2 separate regions of the Homo sapiens genome follow, and region 2 is linked to region 1. The links come from fine-mapping of genetic effects on gene expression. Tissue or cell type: whole blood. Region 1 holds a variant in brackets; the other region holds the start of a gene. All regions are shown on one strand. Distances are from middle to middle.

Region 1 (2,758 bases):
AGGGCATCTAAATTAGAAAAGAGGAATTCAAATTGTCCTGTTTTGCTGACGATATGATCTTATCTAGAAAAATCTTAAGACTCCAACAAAAAAACTGCTAGATTTGATAAATAAGTTCATTAAAGTTGTAGGATACAAAATCAATAAAGAATAATCAGTAGTGCTTCTATACACCAATAATGAACTTATTGAGAAAGAAACTAAGAAAGCAATCCTATTTACAATAACTACAAAAAATAAAATACTTAGGAATAAATTTAACCAAGGAGATGAAAGATCTCTACAAGGAAATCTATGAAACACTAAGTAAAGAAACTTAGGAAGATACAAACAAATTGGAAGACATCCCATGTTCAGGAATTAGAAGAATATCATTAAAATGACCATAGTGCTGAAAGTAATCTACATGTTCAATGCCACCTCTATCAAAAATATAAATGTCATTTTTCACAGAATCAGAAAAAAAAAATTCATTCATATGGAACCAAAAAAGGGCCAGAATAGTCCCTCTCCCTCTCCCTCTCCCTCTCCCTCCCCCTCCCCCTCCCCCTACCCTTTGCACGGTCTCCCTCTGATGCCCAGCCGAGGCTGGACTGTACTGCTGCCATCTCGACTCACTGCAACCTCCCTGCCTGATTCTCTTGCCTCAGCCTGCCAAGTGCCTGGGATTGCAGGGGCACACCGCCACACCTGACTGGTTTTCTTTTTTTTGGTGGAGACAGGGTTTTGCTGTGCTGGCCAGGCTGGTCTCCAGCTCCTGACTGCAAGTGATCTGACAGCCTTGGCCTCCCGAGGTGCTGGGATTGCAGACGGAGTCTCGCTCACTCAGTGCTCAATGTTGCCCAGGCTGGAGTGCAGTGGTGTGATCTCGGCTCGCTACAACCTCCACCTCCCAGCCGCCTGCCTTGGCCTCCCAAAGTGCCGAGATTGCAGCCTCTGCCCGGCCGCCACCCCATCTAGGAAGTGAGGAGCGTCTCTGCCTGGCCGCTCATCGTCTGGGATGTGAGGAACCCCTCCGCCCGGCTGCCCAGTCTGGGAAGTGAGGAGTGCCTCTTCCCGGCCGTCATCCCATCTAGGAAGTGAGGAGCGTCTCTGCCCGGCCGCCCATCGTCTGGGATGTGGGGAGCACCTCTGGCCTGCCGCCCCATCTGAGATGTGAAGAGTGCCTCTGCCCGGCCGTGACCCTGTCTGGGAACTGAGGAGTGTCTCTGCCCTGCCACCACCCCGTCTGGGAGGTGAGGAGCGTCTCTGACCAGCCACCCCATCTGGGAAGTGAGGAGCCCCTCTGCCCAGCAGCCGCCCCATCTGGGAAATGAGGAGCATCTCTGCCCAGCAGC[T/C]GCCCCATCTGGGAGGTGGGGGGCAGCCCCCGCCCGGCCAGCCGCCCTGTCCGGGAAGTGGGGGGCAGCCCCCGCCCAGCCAGCCACCCCCTCTGGGAGGTGAGGGGTTGCCTCTGCCCGGCTGCCCCATCTGGGAAGTGAGGAGCCCCTCTGCCCGGCCGCCACCCCATCTGGGAGGTGTACCCAATAGCTCATTGAGAACATGATGACAATGGTGGTTTTGTCGAATAGAAAGGGGGGAAATGTGGGGAAAAGAAAGAGAGATTAGATTGTTACTGTGTCTGTGTAGAAAGAAGTAGACATAGGAGACTCCATTTTGTTCTGTACTAAGAAAAATTCTTCTGCCTTGGGATGCTGTTAATCTATAACCTTACCCCCAACCCCATGCTCTCTGAAACATGTGCTGTGTCCACTAAGGGTTAAATGGATTAAGGGCAGTGCAAGATGTGCTTTGTTAAACAGACGCTTGAAGGCAGCATACTCGTTAAGAGTCATCACCACTCCCTAATCTCAAGTACCCAGGGACACAAACACTGTGGAAGGCGGCAGGGCCCTCTGCCTAGGAAAACCAGAGACCTTTGTTCACATGTTTATCTGCTGAGCTTCCCTCCACTGTTGTCCTATGACCCTGCCAAATCCCCCTCTCCGAGAAACACCCAAGAACGATCAATAAATACTAAAAAAAAAAAAAAAAAAAAAAGAAAGAAAGAAAGAAAAAGAGCCAGAATAGCCAAAACCATTCTGAGCAAAAAGACCACAGCTGAAGGCATCATCTATCTCACTTCAAAATGTATTAGAAAGCTATAATAACAGGATTGTTAAGGATATAAAAACAGACACATAGACCAGTGAAACGGAATAATGACACCAGAATTAAATTCACTTATTTATAGCCAACTGATTTTCAATAAAGGTGCCAAGAACATACACTGGGGAAAGGAAATTCTTCAATAAATAGTTTTGGGAAAATTTGAAATTCACGATATGCATAAGAATAGACTGAACACCTATGTCTCCCCATACACAAAAATCATCTGAAGATGGATTAAAGACTTAAATGTAAGACCTGAAACAATAAAACTGCTAGAAAAAAAAATAAAGAGAAAAAACAAAACATCAGTCTAGGCAAAGATTTCATGGCTAAGACCTCAAAAGCACAGACAACCACAACAAATAGGCAAATAGGATTATATTAAACTAAAAAGCTTCTGCACAGCAAAAGAAACTATCAACAGAGTGAAGATACAACTTACAGAATGAGAGAAAAATATTTGCAAACTATTCATCTGAAAAGGGATTAATATCCAGCATATACAAGAAATTCAAACAACTCCTCCATTTAAAAAGAAATCCCATTAAAAAGTGGGCTAATGATATGAATAGACATTTCTCAAAATAATACATACAAATGGCCAACAGGT
Region 2 (2,500 bases), 220 kb after region 1:
AACAGAGCGAGACTTGAAAAAATAAAATAACAGCACCTACCTCTCAGGGTTGTTGCCAGGACTGAGAATATCCTTATCAGCTGTTATATTCACTTTGGTATTACTCTCCCCCAGTGCTTTGCACAACACAGAGGAAGTCAGTATTTTTGACTGAATGAATAGGGCTAGGTGACCTTAAGCCTAAGTACCTATTGAGCACATTTTCCAAGGATTTTCGGAAAATTTCCTTTGAAAAGGAAATGTTTGTGTAGCCTTGTGGAAAACTGATTCTATCACCAAGGTAAGCAGCCTAAGCGCACCTGCTGGAAAGAAGGCAATCCTAAACTGTCTGTTAATAAAAAGTCAAGGTTTACAAATAAAAGGGGTGCAATGAAGAAAAGGGGCACACTTTAAATAAGAAGAGTAGGTAGGCACCTAAGCCCCACGCGCTTCTCCGAATAAGTCTGTCCTACAAGACTCCTGACAAACAGACCACCTAAGGACTGGCCGGCGCCACAGGGTGAATAAAGGACACCGGCAACCATAAACAAGTCACGCTTTTAAAAGCGAGACATACCAGCAAGGACACAATACCCTACTGAGCCAGCTTCGGCTGGCAGGCGCCGTGACCTCACCCAAAGCCACTGGTGTCACGGCTACTGCCACCGGTGCCGTCCCTTGCTCGGCAACTAACTGCCACCCGCTGGCATCTGCACGAGACCGCTATTTATAACCTCCCTAGGAAGCCGATTGGCCACGGCTGCAAATAGTCATTCCGGCTGTTGAGTTTGAACTAGCTCTGCCCAGGTCGCCCTCTCCGCTGTCTCTTCCTCCTCACCAGCCTAGGCCCCAGAAACTTGTACCCACCACCGCCAGACCGCCCCAACTCACACTCACAATTTGTGCTCGCAATCTCCTATGTCCCCAGCCGGACACCCTCTCCGAACTCCCTCAAGGGTCAAGCATACCTCAAGGGCATCCAGCTGCCACCTCTCTGGATGAACCGCCCATCGAAAGTCCTCTATGACCTCCCTCTCCACCACCCCCGATCTTGAGGGCCGAAATGACCCCGTACGACTCTCGCTGTCCCCCAAAGCTGCAAATATCTGCACCTGCACAGCTGCCGCCTCATTCCCTGCCCTCTTCGGGGACCCAGTTCCCAAATCCACCAGCCCACTCCCTTCGACATCGCCCCAGCAGGAGACGAGAAAGGGACACCAAGAGGCACGGTGCTTCTTCCCCACCTAAGCCTGCGGCCTGCGGACACCCCAATGCACCCTGCGCCCGGGACACCGCCGACCCCGCCCCGCTTTGCTCTTTGACAGGTCTCTCTCCCGGCGAGGGCCGTGGTCTTCAGGAAAGGCCCGAGCCCCTTTCCCAGCTGCGCCCTAGGCGCGCGCCCCGGCTGCCCGCACCCGCCAGTGCCGTCGCGCTCACCTGGGCCGGGAGGCTGACAGCCTTGGGCTGTGCCCTGAGGGCCGCGAGAGGACGTCGCGCTGGCAGACCCGGGCTTGGGCCCCGCGGCGCTGCGCCTCCAACCCGGAAGAACAGCCCCAACTCCGCGGCGGCGGGCGGCCACGTGACTGCAGCTCCGCTCCCACCTCGGCCCGCGCCCCTTCCCCGCCCCAGCTTTCTTCCCGCCAGGCCCCCTCCACCCGATCGCCGCGCGCTCTCCGAACCAAAAGGCGACCTCACGAAATGCCCCTTTGAGCTCAAAGGCTAGTTACCCCCAGGGGCCCTTCCACTCTCGGGGACAGGCGAAACCTCTTTGTCTCTGCCTCGGCCTGCGGCCCCCAGCCCAGCCTCCGCGCTTTCCCTCCGCCAGTCCTTGTCAATCAAACCTGGTGCCAAACGCGGCAGCTGAAGTTTTCAGGGACACATTTGCTTCTCCCCTTGAAGAACCAGTTACAAAGCGTGATGTCCTCTCTGGGGTCCCATCAGAACAAAGAAACAGGTAATATAACTCCACTCCGGGTACCTGCCTTTCCTCCAGCTCGCTAGGAAAAATCAGAACTTCTGTAACAGAGAGGACCCAAGGGAAAGGGGCAGGCGGAGAGGGGTTGGTGAAGGGCGGGAATGGGGGGCGTTGATTTTCCATTCTGGCAGGAGAGGTGGAGTTAAATTCCTCAGAAACGATGTCCAGGCTTGAAAAGTAACACACATCTGCGTGCTTGTCTTCCAACATCAGAGCCAGCCTAGAGGAAGCTGGCTAGTGTCACTGCTAGTACGAATATCCCCGAGGCTGGAAAGCATCTGGGTGGAGGTTGTGAGCTTTCCAGACCAGGCCTCGGCTGTTTTTCTAAAACTATTAACCGTAATGACCTAGTCGTTCTTTTCACACAGTTCTGTTACTTATTCTGCAGGTGTATTCTGACTAAAAGTGGGAGGAATAAAAAATAGAGTGTAAAATGGTTCACTTGCCCAAAACTTAATCATCATGAAGTGTCAGTAACGTCATTTATTTCTATTAATTGAAATTTTGATACAAGAAAAATAATTATGAATCTAAAAGGTATAAGCA

The links. PIP is the estimated chance that this variant, and not a neighbour inherited with it, causes the effect.
Region 2: it holds the start of NNT, and the variant in region 1 is fine-mapped to the expression of NNT in whole blood (TOPMed, PIP above 0.99). The same link has a PIP of 0.9 or more in T cells, fibroblasts, lung, lymphoblastoid cells, macrophages and monocytes.

The regions. Positions count from the first base shown.
Region 1 is chr5:43,823,155-43,825,912 of GRCh38, reverse strand. No RefSeq gene overlaps it. Among named protein-coding and RNA genes, the nearest start is that of NNT-AS1, 220 kb to the right of the region's middle. The variant T/C (reference allele first, on the strand shown) is at 1,338.
Region 2 is chr5:43,602,211-43,604,710 of GRCh38, reverse strand. It overlaps NNT (nicotinamide nucleotide transhydrogenase), which reads right to left and starts at 1,531. Exons shown (of 22, transcript NM_182977.3): 1 at 1,417-1,531. It overlaps NNT-AS1 (NNT antisense RNA 1), which reads left to right and starts at 1,481. Exons shown (of 3, transcript NR_073113.1): 1 at 1,481-1,933. RefSeq lists silencers at 1,271-1,490, 1,611-1,700, 1,964-2,183.